7 linked regions of the Homo sapiens genome follow. The protein of the gene in region 2 interacts with the protein of the main gene of each other region in a pairwise test. Each region holds a gene or a part of one and is shown on either strand. Other genes may lie near its edges.

Evidence for each region.
Region 1: the proteins of EPN2 (region 2) and ENTREP1 interact in a two-hybrid assay, tested with the Homo sapiens proteins (one large-scale study listed by IntAct).
Region 3: the proteins of EPN2 (region 2) and SMAD1 interact in binary tests that used the Homo sapiens proteins (3 or more experiments, as listed by UniProt).
Region 4: the proteins of EPN2 (region 2) and PMEPA1 interact in binary tests that used the Homo sapiens proteins (3 or more experiments, as listed by UniProt).
Region 5: the proteins of EPN2 (region 2) and PRKAA2 interact in binary tests that used the Homo sapiens proteins (3 or more experiments, as listed by UniProt).
Region 6: the proteins of EPN2 (region 2) and LITAF interact in binary tests that used the Homo sapiens proteins (3 or more experiments, as listed by UniProt).
Region 7: the proteins of EPN2 (region 2) and RNF8 interact in binary tests that used the Homo sapiens proteins (3 or more experiments, as listed by UniProt).

Annotation. Positions count from the first base shown.
Region 1 is NC_000009.12:69,380,715-69,384,214, forward strand, and holds part of ENTREP1 (endosomal transmembrane epsin interactor 1), read left to right. Parts: intron 1-1,800; coding exon of another isoform or gene 1,801-1,816; exon of another isoform or gene 1,817-2,725; intron 2,726-2,731; coding exon of another isoform or gene 2,732-2,807; intron 2,808-2,915; coding exon 2,916-3,045; intron 3,046-3,232; coding exon 3,233-3,311; intron 3,312-3,500. UniProt on the Homo sapiens protein: Functions as an activator of the E3 ubiquitin protein ligase ITCH in the ubiquitination of the CXCL12-activated CXCR4 receptor. Thereby, triggers CXCR4 endocytosis and desensitization, negatively regulating the CXCL12/CXCR4 signaling pathway.
Region 2 is NC_000017.11:19,282,366-19,285,865, forward strand, and holds part of EPN2 (epsin-2), read left to right. Parts: intron 1-584; 5' UTR 585-754; coding exon 755-1,349; intron 1,350-3,254; coding exon 3,255-3,425; intron 3,426-3,500. UniProt on the Homo sapiens protein: Plays a role in the formation of clathrin-coated invaginations and endocytosis.
Region 3 is NC_000004.12:145,488,353-145,491,852, reverse strand, and holds part of SMAD1 (mothers against decapentaplegic homolog 1), read right to left. Parts: intron 1,577-3,500; exon of another isoform or gene 1-1,576. UniProt on the Homo sapiens protein: Transcriptional modulator that plays a role in various cellular processes, including embryonic development, cell differentiation, and tissue homeostasis.
Region 4 is NC_000020.11:57,647,896-57,651,015, reverse strand, and holds the end of PMEPA1 (protein TMEPAI), read left to right. Parts: 3' UTR 1-2,620; downstream 2,621-3,120. UniProt on the Homo sapiens protein: Functions as a negative regulator of TGF-beta signaling and thereby probably plays a role in cell proliferation, differentiation, apoptosis, motility, extracellular matrix production and immunosuppression.
Region 5 is NC_000001.11:56,690,314-56,693,813, forward strand, and holds part of PRKAA2 (5'-AMP-activated protein kinase catalytic subunit alpha-2), read left to right. Parts: intron 1-1,080; coding exon 1,081-1,174; intron 1,175-2,044; coding exon 2,045-2,189; intron 2,190-3,451; coding exon 3,452-3,500. UniProt on the Homo sapiens protein: Catalytic subunit of AMP-activated protein kinase (AMPK), an energy sensor protein kinase that plays a key role in regulating cellular energy metabolism.
Region 6 is NC_000016.10:11,552,420-11,555,919, forward strand, and holds part of LITAF (lipopolysaccharide-induced tumor necrosis factor-alpha factor), read right to left. Parts: intron 1,271-3,500; coding exon 1,114-1,270; intron 1-1,113.
Region 7 is NC_000006.12:37,356,983-37,360,482, forward strand, and holds part of RNF8 (E3 ubiquitin-protein ligase RNF8), read left to right. Parts: intron 1-3,463; coding exon 3,464-3,500. UniProt on the Homo sapiens protein: E3 ubiquitin-protein ligase that plays a key role in DNA damage signaling via 2 distinct roles: by mediating the 'Lys-63'-linked ubiquitination of histones H2A and H2AX and promoting the recruitment of DNA repair proteins at double-strand breaks (DSBs) sites, and by catalyzing 'Lys-48'-linked ubiquitination to remove target proteins from DNA damage sites.

The sequences.
Region 1 (3,500 bases), on a different chromosome or scaffold from region 2:
ATCAAGGAGTCTCCAACCTATTTCTTGAACATGGATCTGGTTTTTACTCTGGGGATGTAGCCTATTAAAGAAAACCGAAGACTGAGGGGGTCTTGGGCATTGACGTGGTTGACATGGGCATTTCTTAAAGCAGAGCCCCCCCAAACCCCACTCATTTCCTTTCCTAAGAATTTCCAAACCCAAACTCAAGTGGAGCCGGGCGATGCTTGGGGTTGAGTCAGTGCTCAGCTGTAGAGGGTTGGGGGAGGGCCCTTCCCTCTCTCCCCCTCTGCAGGCAGCAACCCTGTACCCAGTCACAGGGTACAGTTTTCCAGTACAGGAGGAGGAGGATTCTCTGGTCAATGGTGTATCTGCTGCTGCATTCCACCTGAGTGAGTCTTCAGGGCCTATTTGTAGCCTGAAAGCAGAACATGCTTTGAATTTCCATCTTCAGTGCTCCTGAGCCTGCACCAGTGAAGTCTTCCTGGGGACTTGGTGATGGACTTGAAAGAGCCAGGCTCTAGAGTCTCTGCAGAGGGTGACCCAGGATGAGTCTCTCACCATTTCTGAGCCTCAGTTTCCTCATTCACCTTCGTTGTCATGTGGCTGCAGGGAGTATTGTTATGAGATAATGGACATAAGAAGCTTTCTGAAAAGAAGCAAGACCCTCATTCTTTAATAAAAATTTGATCAACTTTCCCAGTAGAACAGGGCTTTAATTTCAATCACCATTATCCATTTCCTTTTGCAGTGGTGCTCAATCTTGGTGGTGCATTAGAATCCCCTAGGAGCACTGACAACGGGCAGATTCCTGGGTCCCACGATAGGCAATGAGAGCAGAATTTCTAAAAGTGAGGCCTGGGCCATCCAGAGTTTCAGAACCTCCCAAGGTGATTCTACCTACCTTGCCAGGACTGAGAGCCATGGGGATCTGGGGAAAGAAACAGTAGTTAAAAACAAAAACAAAAACAAAAACAAAAAACCAACCTGCCAGTATGTAGCAGATCCATTTCCCTCCACAGACCCTTGTTAACACAAATGAGGTAAAATAAGAAATTGCTTAATAGGAAAGGAACTTTCCTTCTATGTCAACTCTAGCAGCATCTTCCTTCAAAGTGAGGCTTTTATGGGCATTATCAAAACTACCATAGAAGCTGTTTATTCTGTGGTCAGCTTGGATAAAGTATGCCCCCTCTTTCCCCAGTTGTTCTTCGGGAAGAAATTCTACAATAGTTTAGGATCTAAAACAGAGCCTGTTACTCTGACCTCTTGGCCCTCAGCAAGCCCTCTCCTCTCTCTGGACACGTAACAAACAGGCAACGGGGATAGAAACTTTCCAGGCAGGGGACACAGCAGCGAAGAAATACAGATGTCATTTGTTGGAGAGAAAAAGTCAAGTGTTTATAAGTGCTAGGAAGGTGGCTCATGGGGGCTATGCTCATTAAAGATGGAAGGCTGGCCCTCTGGAGAGGATAGAAGTCCATAGGTCTCATTGATGAAAGCAAATTGCACTGTTCATTTGCCAGGAAAGAATCTTCACTCTTAGATCCAGGAAGGGTCTGGCTTCTCAGAGTCACTCAGCATTTATAGTTCTTAAACAGTTTCAGTGGAATGGGGGAGTTGGAATGAAGCCCGTTGGCAAGTCCTGCTGTAAGGGGGAGAATCTCTCTTTCATAATAACTTTGCCAGGACCCCTCCCCCACGAAGGGACCCTTTGTGCTAGTGCCTCGCTTCCAACTGGAGGCTTGATGTGTTGCGTGCTGAACCTGCAAACATCTCCACTTCAGGCATTAGCTCATCACCTTCTGCCTTCCCCTTCAGGTCAAGCAAGGGATGAGAGCCTCGCTTACGAACAGACAAATATAGAGGAAAACGAGGGAGTGCTTTCTCATCTTTTCATTCAGGTTGCAGAGTCTCATTCTTCTCAGTCCCAGAATTCCAGAAGTTTTATTGTTAGGAAGAAAGAAGATGATATCCTTTTCAAATTTTTTCTTCCACCAATCACATTTTGTATATAGCCACAAAGAATAAAATGAAACAACTATAAATTCAGAGAACACTGCTCCCCAAAAGGCAGTGCCTGCAAGCAACTAGCCCCAGAATCTGTTTTCTCATCCATTTCTTTTAGCTTTTTAAAATCCTTTTTTTGTATTTCAAGAACAGACAAACTTTTGTTCTCTTTTTTTTTCTTTCATTCTTTGATACTCCATAGCAGAATGCAGGTGTTCTGGCTTTTATATGTATTTTATAAATTATTTTAAAACTTAGGTTCATCATTATCTAGATCATCTGGTACCTTGGGCAGAGATTTGTGGAATTTTCTGTCAACGTTGGTGAAAAATCTTGTGGAGGATTTTGCTATTATTTTGAATTTTGCTGTTGACGGTTCTTTACCCACAGGACAAAAACAAGAGTCATGTAGAATGTAAGACATAATTGAATTTTCCTGAGTCCTTAGCTGTTTTTTAAATAGAGGTGAAACTCATATAAAATGAAATTAACCAAAGTATATGATTCAGTAGCATTTAGTGCATTCACATTATTTCGTAACCATCATCTTTATCTAGTTCCAAAGCATTTTCAGTACTTCAGAGAGACCCCATACCCATCAAACAGTCACTCCCCATTCCCTTCTCCCCCATCCCCTGGCAGCCACTAATCTGCTCTGTGTCTCTATGGATTGTTTGCTTTTTGACTGATGGGTTTAAAAGCAATGATGGGGTTGCATTTTATACACTGTCATTTGCTTAAGGAACTCTGGCCACTTCGTCGGAGAGCAGCTTCTATTATTCTCCCTCTCCTGGCCAAGGAGACCATGGTATGGAGAGGTGAGTGGTTTTCCCCACAGTTTAGAGCAAAGCCAGTATCCGGGCATCACTGCAGTCACGTGGCCAGTCTGTAGAACGTGCTTTCTGACGCCAAGTCGCTTTTCCTAGGATGGTTGGTCCTGATGTTATTCCCCTGCCACACATCTACGGAGCTCGAATCAAAGGTGTGGAAGTGTTCTGTCCTCTGGATCCCCCGCCGCCATATGAAGCTGTGGTGAGCCAGATGGACCAGGAGCAGGTACTGTCTGTCCTGAATCTCTCTAAGTACATTGACTGCAAGTGGGAAAGACAGCACCGCCCCACCCCCTGCCCCCAGAGAACAGCAGGGAGACCGGGCCCCACACATCTTTTTAAGGAGTTCACTGGGTCTAATGAGGGGTGAGTTAAACATCAACAAAATAACCCTGTTTTTTGCTGTGATGCAGGGATCTTCATTCCAAATGTCAGAAGGATCAGAAGCTGCTGTGATCCCATTGGATCTGGGCTGCACACAAGTGACTCAAGGTAATAGATACATTGTGACATGATTCAGTAGATTAAAACATGATAAAATAGGCTGGGCAAGGTGGCTTATCTCTGTAATCCCAGCACTTTGGGAGGCCGAGGTGGGAGGATCACATGAGGCCAGGAGTTTGAGGCCAGCCTGGACAACATGGAGAGAGACCCTATTTCTACAAACGGAAAAAAAAAATG
Region 2 (3,500 bases):
ACACAGTGGACCAAAGCAGTTTTGAAGGTATTGACAGGCATTTTTGAGTTAAGATAGACCTGAAATTAGTCTCTTTCTTGTCCTCATGTGTATTTTTTTTTATTTAAATAAACTTTAAAAAAATAGAGATGGGGGTATTGCTGTTTTGACCAGGCTGGCCTCAAGTAATCCTCCCATTTCAGCTTCGCAAAGTGCTGGGATTACAGGTGTGAGCCACCATATCTGGTCTCACATGTAATTTTAAATCTGCCAAGATCAGCTTCCCCCAGTGTTTCCGATTCTTCCACAGCTGGCTTTTGCCAGGCAGTGAAAAGACAACCCATAAAATAGCCATTCCAGTGGAAGTGTTTTGAAAATAGAGCAATAGTCATGATGTTTACTTCTTTTCTCCTAAAGGCTTAAACTTGAGTGTAAGTTTTATTCATTGTTGACTGGTGATATTGATTTTATCTTGGGTTCGTCCTAAGGAGGCTGGGTATGTCCACTCAGCTCCCCAGTTTTACCCAGTACCTGCTGCTGGACCACAGTCTCCCACCCTCACAGGGGGCTTACGTCGCAGTGGAATGGGTTTTCTCTTTCTCTAGGTCATGGCTTCCAGCTTTTCGAATCTGAGGCTCCAAAGGAGGAAATGACCATTCAGGGATCTTACTCCAGCTTGATTACGGAGACTGAACCTTCATAGGGTGCGCACTTACCAAGGACAGGAAGGTTTCTCTGTTTGAAGGGCTTTAAACTTATAACAAAGAAAATAAAAATGACGACTTCGTCTATCAGACGGCAGATGAAAAACATCGTGAACAATTACTCAGAGGCAGAAATCAAAGTCCGGGAAGCCACCTCCAATGACCCGTGGGGCCCGTCCAGTTCTCTGATGACCGAGATTGCCGACCTGACCTACAACGTGGTGGCCTTCTCGGAGATCATGAGCATGGTGTGGAAGCGGCTGAATGACCATGGCAAGAACTGGCGGCATGTGTACAAGGCGCTGACCCTGCTGGACTACCTCATCAAGACAGGCTCCGAACGTGTGGCCCAGCAGTGCCGGGAGAACATCTTCGCCATCCAGACCCTGAAGGACTTCCAGTACATTGACCGAGATGGCAAGGACCAGGGCATCAATGTGCGTGAGAAGTCAAAGCAACTGGTGGCTCTCCTCAAGGACGAGGAACGGTTGAAGGCTGAGAGGGCCCAGGCTCTCAAAACCAAAGAGCGCATGGCCCAGGTTGCCACTGGCATGGGCAGCAACCAGATCACCTTTGGGCGAGGCTCCAGCCAGCCCAACCTCTCCACCAGCCACTCGGAGCAGGAGTATGGCAAGGCCGGGGGCTCCCCGGCCTCCTACCATGGCTGTGAGTAATGGAAGTGCTTCTCACCCTTTGCCAGAGCAGCAGCAATGGGTGACAGGCAGGGTGGGTGTCTCTGGGCTTAGGGAGTGGTGGCCACTGCAGAGCTCGAACCTGTCCTCAGTACCCAGCTTTTGGTGGCCCAGGCAAATTGTCCTTGGTCTGGATTGAGTTTTGGTTATAAAGGGACTTTTAGTCCCTTGGCTGCTCTGGTTCAGGGATCTCTAACGCCCTTTGCTGCTCTGGGCCTCATTCTGTACATCTGGGCAGACGGTGGGCAGAGGCAGGTCTTTTCTGCTTCCTTGTCAGAATGGGTCTGGCAGCAAAGGAGTTGTCCTGCTGCACATACAATGGGGAGTTGACTCTGGTAGCCAGGAGGAAACAAATGCTCTTTCTTGATAATCTTGTTTCTTTAATCTCATATTAAGTGTTTTTCTGCTGACTGAGCTTCAGGTCTCTTGAATGGCTCAGTATTATTCTACTTCAGCAAAAAAACTTGTACAGGTTGCTAGTGTGAACAAGGCCTCCCTGCCAAACATGCAAATGAGAGTTGCTAGTGATCTGGTTGCATGGCTGGGTCTGCATTGAGTTCTGGTTTTGCATGTTGGATTAATTTGGGTCTTTGCCTTATGGTCAGAAGAGGTTTCAGGGAACAGAGTGGAGTTCAGGGCCTGATGGAAGCTGGTCTCTGTGAGTCACATTGGCATCCTGGCTGTTCATTGGAAGTGGTCCCCCAACAGGTGTTTCTCCATTTTCACAGTGCTATTCCAGCCACAGTGTGGACCCCACACTCAGAGAGACAGGTGGCCCTAGTGGCCTTTGGGGGACAGGGTGAGGATGGAGGTGGGGATTGTAGAAATTATATCTTCTGGCTGCTAAAACAAAAGTGCAGATCCCTAGTAACACTATGTCAGCATAGCAGAAAACTTCTTTTTAAAGGAAGTTGTCTGTAGTTTGACAGACCTCAGTCAACCCTTACTTAGTCAGTGTTCTGTTACCAGACCATTTACTAACATTTCCTGCTTTTGCAGGTTTCGATTTGACATTGTACCGCCACCACTAGCATTTTGAGAAATGTGTTAAATGAGAGATTTGCATATTAAAGTCAGATTTCCTGCTTCTAGGAATTCTGAATTATTACCGAGCTTGGAGCAGGTTAACATATTCTTGTCCCATATGTAGTTGTCATTTTTCTTCTTAGTTTGAACTGTTTTGCTTAAGCAAAGGTTGTGACCTTGGTTAAACCACTTGAAAACAATTTAACCTTAATCTCCAGAAGCCTCAATGCAGGGTTAAATTGCACCAAAACAAATGAAGATTGCCCTTTAAGAAGTGAAATTGTTTTATTTCTCTCAAGGATCCTCTTACCAACCCCCAGAGAGGCTCTCTTTGGATTGAGTTGGTCCCAACCTGCCTTGACTTCCTCTGTCCCTGTGACTGTGGCTGTGGCTTTGATGCAGGCCAAGGGGAGCTGCCATTCTCTTTATGTGCTTTTCATGGTCATTATTCTCAAGAAGCCAGAGGATGCTAAGCAAGGAGCTGAAACAGCTTCATGTTCCATGAACAATTTGTGGAACTTTGCAGATGCAGGGGTTGGAACAGTGGGGATGCAGGAGCCTGGTTTGATCCACCCCTCCTCCTCATACCGAGTCCAGGGCCTGTAGCCATAGGTCCTGCTGGGCTAAATGATACTGCTGCAGTTCCAGCTGTGATGTTTTTGGTTCCCTCAGACCTTACGCTTGAGCTGCATGTTCAGGGTCAGAATGTGGTCAGTGGGCTTTTCACAGCTTCCACCGCAGTGGGCTGCGGGGTTGACCCCGAGTGGCCTTGGCCCGTACCTCCTGCAGGGGCTGCTGCGCACCCTCTAATGGCGTGTCTCTCTGTGTGTGTGTGTGTGTCCCTGCCCCACAGCGCCTGAGGCCTCGCTGTGCCCCCAGCACCGCACAGGGGCCCCGCTGGGTCAGAGTGAGGAGCTGCAGCCACTGAGCCAGCGCCACCCCTTCCTGCCGCACCTGGGGCTGGCCTCCCGCCCAAATGGCGACTGGTCCCAGCCCTGCCTCACTTGTGACCGCGCAGCCCGAGGTGGGACGGCGGTTTGCTTTTTTCCTTACTAGAAATGCTGGGCAGCTTGCTGGGGGTGTGCTTGCCATGCCAGTA
Region 3 (3,500 bases), on a different chromosome or scaffold from region 2:
GGAGAGAAAGGGGCCTATTTCAATATGCTCTAGGAAGCACTGGTGTCTTCAAGGTTCATCATCTACGCCAGGTGACTGAGAAACTGTGTATAACTGATAGCCCCTCACACTGCAATAAGGAAACTCCTGGACGAAAACCATGTTATGGAGGGAAGCAGGGTGCCTGCCTCTTATAACTCTACTTTGTATATATCTTGTACCTCCTTGACACTCCAGATTCTCCTAGGAGGCTGGGAAATTCGGGCTTCCTTTCCTTAAATGAGAAAAGCCCAGTCTTCCCAGACTGATACTTCCTAGTATACAAAGAATAACAAAATACAGGAAAAAGGAAGACATCATCCCCATTTCAATCAAGTCTGATCCAGGACATAACCAAAACATTGTGTGTTCATTAGTAGTTTGTACTTCTTTTTTCCTTTTTCTTGAGACAGTCTCACTCTGTTGCCCAGACTGGAGTGCAGTGACACAATCATAGCTCACTGCAGCCTTGAACTGCTGGGTTTAAGTGATCCTTTTGCCTCAGCCTCCAGAGTAGCTGGGATTACAGGCGCAGAATCTTCCCGTCAGCAGTTGGCATTTCATTTGTTTGTGAAATGCTTGTTCACGTCCACTACCAATTTTTCTATTGGGGTGGTGCTTCCTATTGATATAAGTCTTTCTTGTAAAGAACAATATCTTGTTGCAAATCTCTTTATCTGTCTTTCAGGTTTTGTTTTTGAGTATGTTTGGTCACATAATAAATGCTATCAAATCTATAAAAAGTTTCCTTTATTGTTTCTGCCTTTGGAGCCACATTTTGAAGGGCTCTGTGGCTGGCTATTAATAACCCTCCCCCCAGTGGCATAAATCAAACTCCCCTTTCCTTCTAACACTATGACAAGAATCCACTGCAGAATCTTTCTGCATTAAGCACATATTGGTTTAATGAAAAAGAAATGTTTTTAACCGTAATGAATGCTGTAATAAAAGCCACAGAAAAATTCAGAATACAATACTTATTTTTTTAAGTTCTAATTAACTTAACCTTTAAAATCATTACAGGGATTCTTCTGTTAGTTCAATTTCTATACTTTTCTTAGAAACCTTTATCTAGAATTGTTAGGGAAATGCTCTATCTACAAATTCCCAAACTTGATATTTCACTACTTCATTACCAAGATTCTCATTGCTTACTGCTTCTCAATTCATTTAGTTCATCAGGCTTCTTATAAAACAAGTAAGTGTTGGGGCTTGGTCTTACACCCAGGCAATCTGACTCTAGAGTCTTATCTCTGAACCCATTTGCTATCCCTAAGCCTACCAGGCCACAAAGTGATACCAAAAAGTAACAATTAACCTAGTCTCCTATACAGCAGCCTCACCACACTTCACCCCAGGTTTCCCCCCAATTGTTTAGAATTTGACTTCTCTATAGATTGCCTGGCACACTACCTACGGTGGTTCTTCTTCCCTTACCATGTGCTGATCTTCCTCCTCACCATCCCAGTGAAAGGACTTACCTCCAACAATACAGGAAAATCAGCAAAAGTGCACAGGAGCTCTGCCACATGCTTTCTTCTCACTCGGACCCCATTCTGTTTCTTTCTCAGACAACTCTCCCTCCTTACCACGGTCAACATTTGTCACTTGTGCTCCAGATGGCTAACTCCATCACCTCCAATTGCTCTCTGTCCACTGACTTCTTCCCCTCAACCTTCAAATATGAAGAGGTCTCATCTATCTTAAAATTCAAGTCACTTAAGGCAATATAAGACTCTCTCACTTCTTAATGTATTCAGCCTTCTCTGAAATTGCATTCACATGATTATCTGACTTCTTCTCCTTCACCCTGAACTGTACATTTTCCCCTCCAAACCTACTTCTAGAATCTCTCTTCCAGTGGCTTCCTGGTTTTCCCACTCCTCTGACCCCATGCCTTTCTTCCAGTTTCTTCTTTGGTCTATGTCAAACAGCCTCTCAGGCAGTCTACTTCAAATTAGCCTCTTCCTTCTATTAATTCCTAACCGTGGGCTCCAATGGAAGATTCAATCCACCAGTTCTTTCTCTCTTTGTGGTTGTCTCAGAATACCCAGCAGATGACTGCAGAGAGTCTAACGTAAAGCTTTCAAGTCCTCCCAAACCTTATCTCCAACCTGCCTGTAGCATACTTTGACTTAGATATCGCACCTTAAATTTAACACATCAAGTCTAATTTATCATTTGCACAATTTTTATTTCTTCTACAACCAGCTCTTCCCTATTCTTAAGTAACATCTTTATTAGTTTTCCAGCCACCAAGTTTAGAAACTTAAGGATATATCTCCGACATCTCTTTCTCATTACTTTATAGCCACATAATCACCAAGCCTTCATGGTTTTTTGTTTTATTTTATTTATTTATTTATTTTTAAATCCTTCTCTTTCCATGTCTACCTTTACCAGAGATTTATCATCTCACACATAACTCAATAGCTTTCTTACTGATCTCCTGGCACTGGGCTCTATCCCTCCAGTGCAAACTGCATGTTCAAACACTTTCAGTGACTTCCCAATGTTTCCTTATTCTGGCACTCTAAGGCCCTAAAATTCTCACTGGAAGTCAACCTTTCTGAGCATCTCCTCCACACCACCATACTAGGCTCCATGAGGAACACCCACTGAGGTCAGGCAGGGCTGCTCACTGCCTCTGGATCTGTGCTATTTGATATGATAACCACATGTGGCTACTGAAACATAAATTAATTTTTTAAAAAATGCTGTTCCATGTGTGGCTACAGCTACTGTATTAGCACAGATGTGGAACATTTCCATCACTGCAGAAATTCTATTGGACAGTGCTGCTCTACAGATACTCAACACTCATGCTTATCTCCCAGTTTTTCATGCCATTACTCTGTCTATAATGTCCCTCTTCCTTCTGCCTATGCAAACTCACATGTCCTTCCAGGCCACAGTGGTCCTGATGTGAGTTGTCTGTACAATTTACTCCTATACTACCTTGTAACGGCTCTTATAATGTTGCTGCATTTAATTTTTCATGTTTGTGTATACTCTAATTATTAAGCCTCAGAACTAATAAATATTCAGGGAATAAATGAAGCATATACTTATTACAATACTGCAGCAAAATGATCAAATAAGGGCCCATTTAATATCCCTCCTTCATTAAAAAGATACGTTTCTTTTCCATCTAAACAAACAAAAGATCTTGCATTTAGTTAACTGAATAATGGCTTAATTAATGCCTAATTATAACCGTTGAGAGAGTCTCCCCCCCACCTTTTTTCTTGAAGTGTTTGAAACTAAAAGAAAAAAAAGCTATAAAGGTCTGGAATACTTCTACTTTGCATAAGCACACCACAAAGAAACCACACACACACACACACACACACACACAAAAAGACAGGGAGAGGATAATACATGAATAGTTGGAGTAACTATACCCTAACAATCTCAGATTGTAGAGCAAAATATCCACAGTACAGCAGCCCTACAATTAAGGGGAAACTACAAATAAAGCA
Region 4 (3,120 bases), on a different chromosome or scaffold from region 2:
GGGTGGAGCATGGTGCCCCTCACAAGCCGCAGCGGCTGGTGCCCGGGCTACCAGGGACATGCCAGAGGGCTCGATGACTTGTCTCTGCAGGGCGCTTTGGTGGTTGTTCAGCTGGCTAAAGGTTCACCGGTGAAGGCAGGTGCGGTAACTGCCGCACTGGACCCTAGGAAGCCCCAGGTATTCGCAATCTGACCTCCTCCTGTCTGTTTCCCTTCACGGATCAATTCTCACTTAAGAGGCCAATAAACAACCCAACATGAAAAGGTGACAAGCCTGGGTTTCTCCCAGGATAGGTGAAAGGGTTAAAATGAGTAAAGCAGTTGAGCAAACACCAACCCGAGCTTCGGGCGCAGAATTCTTCACCTTCTCTTCCCCTTTCCATCTCCTTTCCCCGCGGAAACAACGCTTCCCTTCTGGTGTGTCTGTTGATCTGTGTTTTCATTTACATCTCTCTTAGACTCCGCTCTTGTTCTCCAGGTTTTCACCAGATAGATTTGGGGTTGGCGGGACCTGCTGGTGACGTGCAGGTGAAGGACAGGAAGGGGCATGTGAGCGTAAATAGAGGTGACCAGAGGAGAGCATGAGGGGTGGGGCTTTGGGACCCACCGGGGCCAGTGGCTGGAGCTTGACGTCTTTCCTCCCCATGGGGGTGGGAGGGCCCCCAGCTGGAAGAGCAGACTCCCAGCTGCTACCCCCTCCCTTCCCATGGGAGTGGCTTTCCATTTTGGGCAGAATGCTGACTAGTAGACTAACATAAAAGATATAAAAGGCAATAACTATTGTTTGTGAGCAACTTTTTTATAACTTCCAAAACAAAAACCTGAGCACAGTTTTGAAGTTCTAGCCACTCGAGCTCATGCATGTGAAACGTGTGCTTTACGAAGGTGGCAGCTGACAGACGTGGGCTCTGCATGCCGCCAGCCTAGTAGAAAGTTCTCGTTCATTGGCAACAGCAGAACCTGCCTCTCCGTGAAGTCGTCAGCCTAAAATTTGTTTCTCTCTTGAAGAGGATTCTTTGAAAAGGTCCTGCAGAGAAATCAGTACAGGTTATCCCGAAAGGTACAAGGACGCACTTGTAAAGATGATTAAAACGTATCTTTCCTTTATGTGACGCGTCTCTAGTGCCTTACTGAAGAAGCAGTGACACTCCCGTCGCTCGGTGAGGACGTTCCCGGACAGTGCCTCACTCACCTGGGACTGGTATCCCCTCCCAGGGTCCACCAAGGGCTCCTGCTTTTCAGACACCCCATCATCCTCGCGCGTCCTCACCCTGTCTCTACCAGGGAGGTGCCTAGCTTGGTGAGGTTACTCCTGCTCCTCCAACCTTTTTTTGCCAAGGTTTGTACACGACTCCCATCTAGGCTGAAAACCTAGAAGTGGACCTTGTGTGTGTGCATGGTGTCAGCCCAAAGCCAGGCTGAGACAGTCCTCATATCCTCTTGAGCCAAACTGTTTGGGTCTCGTTGCTTCATGGTATGGTCTGGATTTGTGGGAATGGCTTTGCGTGAGAAAGGGGAGGAGAGTGGTTGCTGCCCTCAGCCGGCTTGAGGACAGAGCCTGTCCCTCTCATGACAACTCAGTGTTGAAGCCCAGTGTCCTCAGCTTCATGTCCAGTGGATGGCAGAAGTTCATGGGGTAGTGGCCTCTCAAAGGCTGGGCGCATCCCAAGACAGCCAGCAGGTTGTCTCTGGAAACGACCAGAGTTAAGCTCTCGGCTTCTCTGCTGAGGGTGCACCCTTTCCTCTAGATGGTAGTTGTCACGTTATCTTTGAAAACTCTTGGACTGCTCCTGAGGAGGCCCTCTTTTCCAGTAGGAAGTTAGATGGGGGTTCTCAGAAGTGGCTGATTGGAAGGGGACAAGCTTCGTTTCAGGGGTCTGCCGTTCCATCCTGGTTCAGAGAAGGCCGAGCGTGGCTTTCTCTAGCCTTGTCACTGTCTCCCTGCCTGTCAATCACCACCTTTCCTCCAGAGGAGGAAAATTATCTCCCCTGCAAAGCCCGGTTCTACACAGATTTCACAAATTGTGCTAAGAACCGTCCGTGTTCTCAGAAAGCCCAGTGTTTTTGCAAAGAATGAAAAGGGACCCCATATGTAGCAAAAATCAGGGCTGGGGGAGAGCCGGGTTCATTCCCTGTCCTCATTGGTCGTCCCTATGAATTGTACGTTTCAGAGAAATTTTTTTTCCTATGTGCAACACGAAGCTTCCAGAACCATAAAATATCCCGTCGATAAGGAAAGAAAATGTCGTTGTTGTTGTTTTTCTGGAAACTGCTTGAAATCTTGCTGTACTATAGAGCTCAGAAGGACACAGCCCGTCCTCCCCTGCCTGCCTGATTCCATGGCTGTTGTGCTGATTCCAATGCTTTCACGTTGGTTCCTGGCGTGGGAACTGCTCTCCTTTGCAGCCCCATTTCCCAAGCTCTGTTCAAGTTAAACTTATGTAAGCTTTCCGTGGCATGCGGGGCGCGCACCCACGTCCCCGCTGCGTAAGACTCTGTATTTGGATGCCAATCCACAGGCCTGAAGAAACTGCTTGTTGTGTATCAGTAATCATTAGTGGCAATGATGACATTCTGAAAAGCTGCAATACTTATACAATAAATTTTACAATTCTTTGGAATGAGGCTTTTTCACTTCTTTGGCCAAATGTAGCTCTTCTCACTTCCCACCCCTTTCTACAATAACCCCGGGTGCATTCAAGGGAGGCGAAGCGATCCCTCGGAGCTGCTGGGCAACCTTGAACAGTTCGTTCAAACTTTCTGTTTTATTAGTTCAGGCAGCATTCAGGGAGCCCAGTGAAAACACTAGCTCAGGCAGGTTCTGGTAAAGGGGGTGGTCGTTGTTAAACAATTTTGCAAAACACTGCATACTTTTCCTCCGTCGGGAAATCATTATTCACCATAGCATGACGAAAGCTCTGATAAGGTCTGCAAGGAAAAAAGAAACTGTCTTAGGTAGGGTTCTTCCAGAAGTAACCCCAAGACGTGGCCTTGTGTGTAAGGGATTAGGACGTTTTAAGGATGTGCTCCCAGGGGGCTTCCGCTAAGGGAGTCAGGGAAGAGGATCAAGGAGGGGGAGAACCTGAGCAAGGGAGACACTTGTGGACAGAGTTCCAGCCTC
Region 5 (3,500 bases), on a different chromosome or scaffold from region 2:
CCACCATGCCCAGCTAATTTTTTGTATTTTTAGTAGAGACGGGGTTTCACCGTGTTTGGTTTAGCCAGGATGGTCTCAATCTCCTGACCTTGTGATCTGTCCGCCTCGGCCTCCCAAAGTGCTGGGATTACAGGCGTGAGCCACCACGCCCGGCCTATCACATCTTAATTAAAATAATTAACAACATTATCCACCACTAATCAGCATGTAGACTTTCCTGATTGTTTCATAAATGGTTTTTAAAGTTGGTTTATTTGAATCAGAATCAAAATAAGTCTATACAGCATAATTGGTCAATATGTCTCTTAAGTTACTTTTAACGTATAGTTTATCCTTTCCCTTTTTTTCTTGCATTTTATTTGTTGAGGAAATGGTCATTTTTCACTTCCTGGATTTTGCTGAATGTATCCCTGTAGTATCATGTTACGTGTCCAGGAAAATATATGTATGTTTTACAGAAATGAGGTCTTGCTATGTTGCCCAGGCTGGTAAAATACTGACTTTAGAAGATATATTCCACTTAATTGCCAACATGAAGCCTATGCTTTTCAAAATCGGTTCCATAAAATCATGTTGAAGATCAGTTATTTTCTTTTCTTAGCACTTTCATGTATGTTCTGTTTTAGTTTGTTTTGCTGTCAATTCCCCAAAACATTGCCCTGAGCTCAAGTGATTCTCCCACCTTGGCCTTCCAAAGTGCTGGGATTACAGGCATGAGCCATAGTGTCTGGCCCAAGTATATTTTCTGTTTATCTTTAAATATGTGATACCTCATCTCCTTTTACTGTAAACAAATTTTTGTTTATATGGAAAAATTAGTTGTTGAAGAGGGAAAGATTTCAAAAATTATGTAAACTTGAAAGGGAGGATCTAAAGGAACGGCCGTGAGCCTCAAGAAATAGAATAATTTTGTAATGGTCCGTGTTTATTGCTCTGTGATTATTTTGATAACATGTAATTTGTTGCCATCTTAAAGTATTATAAAACATTGAAATATAAAATTGTAGCAAGAGTAGATATACCAGTTTGATTTTGGTTAAAGTAACATACTTTGTTAACTTTTTTTAATTAACAAAAAAGATACCAGGTGATCAGCACTCCAACAGATTTTTTTATGGTAATGGAATATGTGTCTGGAGGTGAATTATTTGACTACATCTGTAAGCATGGACGGGTGAGTAACATACTATCTGGTACACTAAATCTCTAAACTAATAAAAAGGAAAGTATTGGGACATAGAACAATGCAAAGATATCTTCAAGGTTGAAGTTGCTTTTATGGTAGTGCTCAACTAAACATGTAGAGTGTTAGATAAATTTTCTTTCTTAAAAAGCATTCCTTTTGAAATACTGATTTTAGAAAATATGTTTCACTTAATTGCCAACATGATGCGTATGCTTTTTAAAATCTGTTCCATAAAATCATGTTGAAGATCAGTTATTTCCTTTTCTTAGCACTTTCACATATGTTCTGTTTTAGTTTGTTTTACTGTCAATTCCCCAAAACATTGTGCACATTTAATAATATTAATTGAAATTTAAATATTTCTGCTTAGCGACAAAGACAAACTTGTCTTTTGACATGTTGAGCTTTGACAAGCTTTTGGTTGGTTTATTTTGTCTGATTTGTTGAGAATTCCAACATAATTCTAGCTTGCTTAATTATATTTAGCCTAATTATGAAATTAAAACTCTTGTCAAATAGATGTCTCAGATTTTTTTTTTTTTTTTTTTTTTGAGACAGACTCTTGCTCTGTTGCCCAGGCTGGAGCGCAGTGGCATGATCTCAGCTCACTGCAACCTCTGCCTCCTGGTACAAGCAATTCTCGTGTCCCACTCTCCTGAGTAGCTGGAACTACAGGTGCATGTCACCATGCCCGGCTAATTTTTGTATTTTTAGTAGAGATGGAGTTTCACCTTATTGGTCAGGCTGGTCTCAAACTCCTGACCTCAGGTAATCCACCTGCCTTGGCTGGGATTACAGGCATGAGCCACTGTGCCCAGCCCCAGATATTCTTAATGCAGTTTCTTTTGTGCTTGATAGGTTGAAGAGATGGAAGCCAGGCGGCTCTTTCAGCAGATTCTGTCTGCTGTGGATTACTGTCATAGGCATATGGTTGTTCATCGAGACCTGAAACCAGAGAATGTCCTGTTGGATGCACACATGAATGCCAAGATAGCCGATTTCGGTATGTAACTCCAGGGTTGTTCAGAAAGGTACTAGCTACCTTTTAAAGCATAACAACTCATTGAACTAAGAACTTTACTTTTCAACCTTGTACGTTCTGTACCATGAAAAGGAATTAGCTGAAATCTCCTCAGTAGCTTTTTTTTTTCATTTAATTAAATTTTCATTAATTTTCATTAAATACACTTTAAAAATGCAGATACCTCTAGAGAAGTTAGAAGGTTGTCATCAAGATAAATCCATTCAATCTGCATTTTCTCCTAAGGAAATGATGCATAACTGTTTTTTTGTTTTTTTTTTTTTTGAAGAGAGGGGAGGAGTCCCAGACTTCTTTGAAAATCTCATGAAAGTATGGGCACTTTCCCTGATGAATGCATATAAACCAAGGTACCTGAAAATATGCATGCAGTTGGAAAAAAGCCCTTCTGAACTGATCCACAAAGAGGTCCTTAGGTGTAACGTCTAATAACTTGATTAGAGAACAGTTTTTGTCAGGGGTAAAAGGTACATAAAATGTGATTTTTATACTCCAAACACTTTCTGGGATAAACATACGTGGAAAGGATGCCTTAATAGGGTATTTGAGAAAAAGACTAGGAAGTGAGAGATTAAAGAGAAAGAGATAGAAAGGTACAGGCTATTGTTGCCTATTTGTGGTCTATACCTTGTCTTTAATCTAAAAACCTAGAAACTACTTTCTCTATTTCTCTTCCTTCTCTAAATCATGAAACTTATTTATTACTATAGCTCAGCTAGATTTTTGGTTCAATAGATTATTTTTTCCATGTTGAATTAAATATTTCTAAATTAAAAACTTTTGGAACATAATCTCTTTATGAGGTGGGGCCCATCTGGTTTCTAATTACAGAATTTAAAGAGGCTTTTGAAAGCACAGGGCAAAAAAGTAGTAGTCTCTATTTTATTCTTTCAACTATGGAAATAGGTAAATAATATTTTGATGTTTTCATGTTTGGGAAAGTTAATATGCTTCAGAATAACCTCATTTGTGATGGGAATCAACATTTTTATTTAGAAAGGAAATTTAGTTTCACTCATATATGTGATGTGCTTTAGCTTTTTGTTACAGTGTAAGCACTCTGAGACGGTCTCTTTCCAGTTAAATGCTTTCCACTGCTTTTTTTTAATAACTTAAAAAAAAATGATATATGGAGGATCCAGGACTTGAAATTTTGCTCATATTTATATGACTTTATCTACTTTTAAAAATATCTAGCACCAAGTAAACATTACTTTTATTTTTAGGATTATCTAATATGATGTCAGATGGTGAATTTCTGAGAACTAGTTGCGG
Region 6 (3,500 bases), on a different chromosome or scaffold from region 2:
GGGTCATAAAAGGATAAGAAGTTTTGAAGCAATTCCTATGAAGAATTTTAATGTACAGATTCTTTAAAGCTTCCCTCGGGCTCGAGCAAAACATTATTATTTAGGTCATGAAATTCTAGAAGAAAAAGGAATCCCTGAGGATATTGCCCTGTACACAGCTGGAAGCAGCTGTGAAGCTTGTCCCTACATGCAGGGCGTGGTTTCAGCAGATAAGCAAGAAGAAAAGACGGAAGACCAATTTCTGGGGACGGATACGCTTAAGAGCAGCAGGGATGACTTGGCCTCCCAGGGGGCATTTTTGTTCAGAACACTGGGGAGCGTGGTGCTCCTAGCATTAAGCGGGTGGGGGCCAGGGATGCTATTCAATATCCTACAATGCACAGGACACCCCCTACAATAAAGAAATGTCTTGGGCCAGGCATGATGGCCCACACCTGTAATCCCAGCACTTTGGGAGGCTGAGGCGGGTGGACCACCTGAGGTCAGGAGTTCGAGACCAGCCTGGCCAACATGGTGAGACCCTATCTCTACTAAAAGTACAAAATATTAGCCGGGCCTGACGGTGCACACCTGTAATCCCAGCTACTCAGGAGGCTGAGGCAGGAGAATAGCTTGAACCTGGGAGGCGGAGGTTGCAGTGAGCCGGGATCGTGCTACTGCACTCCAGCCTGGGCAACAGAGTGAGAATCCATCACAAAAAAAGAAAGAAATGCCTTAGGCCAGGCACAGTGGCTCACACCTGTAACCCCAGCAGTTTGGGAGGCCAAGGTGGGCAGATCACCTGAGGTCAGGAGTTTGAGACCAGCCTGGCCAAGATGGTGAAATGCCAGCTCTACTAAAAATAAGCTGGGCGTGGTTGTGCACCCCTATAATCCCAGCTACACGGGACGCTAAGGCAGGAGAATCGTTTGAACCTGAGCAGTGGGGGTTACAGTGAGCCGAGATCGCCCCACTGTACTCCAGCCTGGGCGACAGAACCAGATTCCATCTCAAAAAAAAACAACACAAATGTCTGGCCCTGAATGTCAAGCATGGTGCAGTTGAGAACCCACCCCCGCCAGCACCCAGAGAGAAGGGCAGGATGGCTTGGGGCCAAGTGGGAGGCAGACTCACCCCAGCAGGCACAGGCTCCCGCAGGACAGCCAGGTCAGAGCACCGGCGTTATAGGACAGCTGACTCACGATCATCTTGTTGCAGGAAGGACAACACATTTGGATAGGGCGGTCCAAAAAGGTGATGGGGTGCTGCACGTAGACCGTCTGCACGGTAACTGATGAAAGGGAGAGGGACAAACACAGGTTGCTCAGGAAACAAGGCCAATAGCATTCACTACAGGACAAAGAGAGGAACGCAGGGATGCCAGCAAATATTATATTTGTACATTTGTGTTCATAGCATGCGTTCATCGTCTGGCTATCTATGAGAGCCAAAAGGGGAAGGAACACCAGTGTCCATCGACGGACCAATAAACTAACACAGCGAAGTTTATCCATCCACCAGAATATGATTCAGCCTCAAAAAGAAAGGAGGACCGGGCGCGGTAGCTCATGCCTGTAATCCCAACACTTTGGGAGGCCGAGGTGGGAGGACTGCTTGAGCCTAGGAGTTTGAGATCAGCCTAGGCAACATGACAAGACCTCATCTCTACAAAAAAATATAAAAATTAGCCCAGCGTGGGAGTACACGCCTGTAGTCCCAGCTACTCAGGAGGCTGAGGTGGGAGGATCAGTTGAGTCTGAGAGATTGAGGATGCAGTGAATCATGATTGCGCCACTGCTCTCCAGCCTGGACAACAGAGCGACGCTCAGTCCCAAAAACAAATAAATAAATTTTAACCAGCCTCACACTGTGCCTAGCAGCTCTTGATAAATAATCCACTCTCTTTACACAAACCCTTTGATAAACTCTGACAGCCAATGATAAGGGTAGAGTTTACCAAGCCAGGAAACGCAGGCCAACTCTGTAAGACAACAAGCTAGTGAACTGTGTTGATACAAGAAATGAAAATATAAAATAATGCTAGGAAGAAAAAGCTATGTGAAAACATGTTCGAACATTCTCAAGAATCAGAAGAGAATCCAGGCCGGGCACGGTGGCTCACACCTGTAATCCCAGCAAATCCCTTGGCTTTGGGAGGCCGAGGTGCGTGGATCACCAGAGGTCAGGAGTTCAAGACCAGCCTGGCCAACATGGTGAAACCCTGTTTCTAAAGACAAAAATTAGCCGGGCATGATGGCACGTGCCTGTAGTCCCAGCTACTTGGGAGGCTGAGGCAGGAGAATTGCTTGAACTTGGGAGGCAGAGGTTGCAGTGAGCCGAGATTATGCCACTGCACTCCAGCCTGGGCAACAGAACAAGACTCTACCTCAAAAAAAAAAAAAAAAAAAAAAAGAGAGAACCCAGGGTGATGAAAATCATCAAGCACTTCAGTTGTTAAGCTCATATTTTTGTTAAAGCAACTTCCTTCTGTTCCTTTTTACGTTAGAATGTCATTTATATAACAAATGAATTAGGGGGAAATTACTGCCTAGAGTTAACTGAACTTAGTAATACTCATAGAAAGACCCTCCTTCCAGAAAAGTAGTATTAAATCATACTTTAGCACTTACGTGTAATTTTTTTTTGGCAGGGGGGACAAGGTCTTGTTGTGTTGCCCAGGCTGGAGTGCAGGGGTACAATCATAGCTCACTGCAGCCTCAACCTCCTGGGCTTAAGCAATCCTCCCACCTCAGCCTCCCAAGTAGCTGGGACTACAGGTACAAGCCATCACACTCAGCTAATTTTATTTTCATAGAGACAATGTCTCACTATGTCACTCAGGCTGGTTTGGAACTCCTGGCCTCAGGTGATCCTCCTGCCTCAGCCTCCTCAGTAGCTAGGATTACAGGCGCAAGCCACCACACCCTGTTCATACATTTTATTAAGTGTTTTTGGGGTTCAAGAATAAGTTATTTGGACCAGGCTCTGTGACTCATGCTGATAATTCTAACACTTTGGGAGGCCAAGGGAGGTGGGAAGATCGTTTGAGCTCAGGAGTTAAAGATCAGCCTGGAAAAACAGTGAGACCCGATTTACACAAAAATTTAAAAATTAGCCAGGTGTGGTGCTGTATGCCTGTAGTCTCAGCTATTCCAGAGACTGAAGTGGGAGGATCACTTGAGCCCAGGAGGTCCAGGCTATAGCGAGCCATGACTGCACCACTGCACTCCAACCTGGGCAACATGGTGAGACCCTGTCTCAAAAAAAAAAAAAAAGAAAAAGAAAAAGAAACTATTTATTGATCACAGGATGGTCTAAGAATCTAAAGTCATTATCTCATCCTCTTCCAGCTCAAAATAACTTGAACACAACAATAAGAGTTCACTTTTATCAAACGAGTACTCTGTATTTGGCACACACAACTTCCTCTCATGTTAACAACTCACTGATATTTATAAATAGGTACTTGATGAAACCTATTTTACAAATGGGGAAGCTGAGGCACAAGGAGGTTATGTGAA
Region 7 (3,500 bases), on a different chromosome or scaffold from region 2:
CCCGCCTGGGCTTCCCAAAGTGCTGGAATTACAGGTGTGAGCCACCACACCTGGCCAGATTTACTTGTTATTTGAGAAACAGTAGGAATTGTGCCCAGGAGGAAAGAGATAGTCTTAGTGAAGGTGGGCAAAGACAGGATGATCTTTTAGATCAATAATGTGTGTAAGCTCAAAGGCTTGCAAAACTATTGTAAATGAAAACAACCCCTCACATATGGGTCGTCAGTCAGTTCCCACGGGAAATTCAGTGTTATGTTGAGTGGTCCTGAGATTTCCAGGTAACCTCACTGCACTCTTTAACTACAGTATAGGTGAAATATCAGTAGTACCAAGGTAAATTCTAAGACCAGGCAGTGCAGGGAAGGATGTAAAAGAATGATTCCTTTTTCTGGGTTCAGAGTCTGTTGGAGGCAATGTCAGGAAAAGGCACTCTTCTACTGTTTTGGTACTGTTTTCCCCTGGCTACTCACAATGGCAGTCTGGCTGTCTCCCCTCAAGTATTAGCATGTAATATGAGATGCTTCCTCTCTTAGAGATAAAGCTACCTAAATAGAAATTTTACTGAATATGGACGACAGATAAATCCCTAGCCATTCCATTTTTAACAGATATGTGTATTCAGAGGAACTTCTATAATTAATATAATTCTGGCAGAGTGTGAAAGAACTGAAAAACTTTGTGCTCAGTGTTGGTGGAGTGATCACCACAACATTTTAAAGAGAAACAAGTGAGACTGTATGAGTTCCAACTGCTGCTCCATATTTTCCAATGGTAATACAGTCTCTAACTTCTGACCTAAAAACACCCACCCTAAAATCTTGAGGACTCATATGCAAGACCTCTTTATTCTTTCATTCATTCTCAAATACTTAACTGAACACTATGCCAGGTATAGAAACACAGTGGTAAACAAGACAGATAAAGTCCCTGCTTATCTAATTTATATTCTATTACGGGGACAGAGGGGAAAAGTAAAATAAACAAGATAATTTTGGTCTGTGATAAGTACTTCCTAATAACTGAAGAAATATGATGGGAAGCAGACAACCAACTTTAGACAGAGGTAATCAGAGTAGGCTTATGAGTAGCTGGAACATGAAAGATAAGGAGCCTGTGCAAGATCTGAGAGAAGAGTGTTCTTAGCAGAGGGGCTAAGTGAAAAGACCCTCAGGTAGGCTGGCACTTCGGGGAGATGGGCTTAAGGAACAACAACAACAAAAAAGTTTGAGGGGCTGGAGCAGCTAGTGTTGGCACTATGGTATGAGTTAAGACTAAAGAGTAGAAGGGCTCAGGACATTCAGGGTCTTATAGGCCATGGAAGGAAGTTTGAATGATTGGACAGTTTTAAGGAAAGAAGGAAAATGACCTGATTTAAAATTTTTACATTTCTATTCCAGTTACTATTATAAAGCTTATGGGGGCTAGAGTGAGAACAGAAACAGTAGGAGGCCAGGTGGTTTGGACTAAGGCTGTGGCTGCAGAGATAGGAATGAACAGACTTAGGACATATTTGAATTATAGCCCATATAATTTACCAGTGATTTCAATGTGGGGATGAGGGACAGAGATGAATCAAAGATGGCTTCTGGGTTATGGGTTGAGTAGTTGGTTGGATAGTATTGTGAATACTGAGATAAGAGTTTGTGGGGAGGAATAGATTAGGTCAGTGAGTCGTGGTGGTCTTTGAGGGACTGAGGAGGACAGGCATTCTGAAAGATTTTAAAGAGAAGAGAAGAGGGCAGTTTTAGCTAACTTTGGTTTAAAGTTCCCAGTTAAGGTTGTGATATGGGACATTAAAGAGGTCGTTTGTGCACTAAGAAGAATATGCAGGGAGCCGGGCGCGGTGGCTCACACCTGTAATCCCAGCACTGTGGGAGGCTGAGGCAGGCAGATCACTTGAGATCAGGAGTTCGAGACCAGCCTGACCAACATGGTGAAACCCCGTCTCTACTAAAAATACAAAAATTAGTTGGGTGTGGTGGTGCGTGCCTGTAATCCCAGCTACGTGGAAGCTGAGGCAGGAGAATTGCTTGAACCCGGGAGGCAGAGGTTGCAGTGAGCTAAGATCGTGCCACTGCACTCCAGCCTGGGTGATAAAGCAAGACTCTCTCAAAAAAACAAAAAAAAATTAACAAACAAAAAAGAATAAGGGAATTCTGTGATCTGGAACTCAGAAGAATTTCATTTCCTTCCTTCACAGGGTTGTTATGAACTAGACTGGTCCAACAGGAAAGTATGATAGATGTGAACTGGGGCTTCTTTTCAACCTTTTCCGGAAGCTCTCAAGCTGTTCTTGTGGATAAGACAGAGAATATGTACTCCAATGCAAAGACTTTTGGTTGAATTATAACTGGCTGAAGGTATATCCAGATGGTGTGGGTTAATGTTTACTAGGTTTTCCTGAAAACTTTGCCTTTGGCTGCATCCCATTCTGTGTCTTGAACGAAGGTATAGAAGGCATCATCTCATAAATTTGGTGGAAGAGATATTAAGTATGTCTGATCTGATGGCAGATTAAAAATTCAGAAAGGTCTTGACAAATTGGTTTGATAGGCTGAACTAGCAAGATGAAATTTAATAGGAATCAATCTAAGGTCCTGCGCTTGAATCCAAGGTTTTCCATCCAGTCAAGTATAGAGCAGAAGAGACAGGACTTAGGATAGCATTTCTTGGAGGAGGGGGAGACCAAGAAATTTAATCATTCCTAAGTTCGAGGATACACTGGCAGTGTACTAGATCTGCTATGAAAGCTAATGCAATTTATATGCTCCAGTGATAATATCTAGAACTGGGAAAGTAACACTTGCGTTTGACTGTGTAATAGAAATTAAGTTTATTTTTCTTAATATGCCATCCAGGAATAAAGATAAACCAGCAGTCCCTTCACAGACTCATTAGAATGGCAAAGGCTCAAGCCCATCCCCTGGGAGTTAAGTTGAAGTAACTGGGAATACAGAACCAGGAAAAGAGAAAACTCAGTGTTCACTTTATATCTGTGCCATTGAAAGGGGATTGGAGATTTCCCGATGGTGCCCAGGGCAAAGCCAGGGCCAATGGATGGAATTTACAAGGAGAAAAATGCCAAGTCAGAGACATTTTAAAAATTGGAGGGCCTGCCTTATGTAAAGTTACTGACAGTATTTATGCGTTGATGGGATGTGTAGAAAGAATTCCTCTATCTCATAGTCATTGAACCAGATGACCTTTCAAGATCTTGGCAACCCTGAGATACATGGATAACTCTTTTTCAGCTTTCTCTTGTTGTCACAACCGTTTGCCTTTTTCTACTTGGTGGTTCTCAAGACAGCTGAAGAGGAGATAGCTGATGCACTGTTTTGGTTCCACAGGTGTCTGGTTTCTTAAGTCAGGACCTGCATATGCTGCTGGTTGATGAGATTTGTAAAGGACCTCCCTTTTCAGCACAATGACTGATGGTATTTCTTGCATTGTTGTTGTCTCCCAGGTGACTGTAGGACGAGGATTTGGTGTCACATACCAAC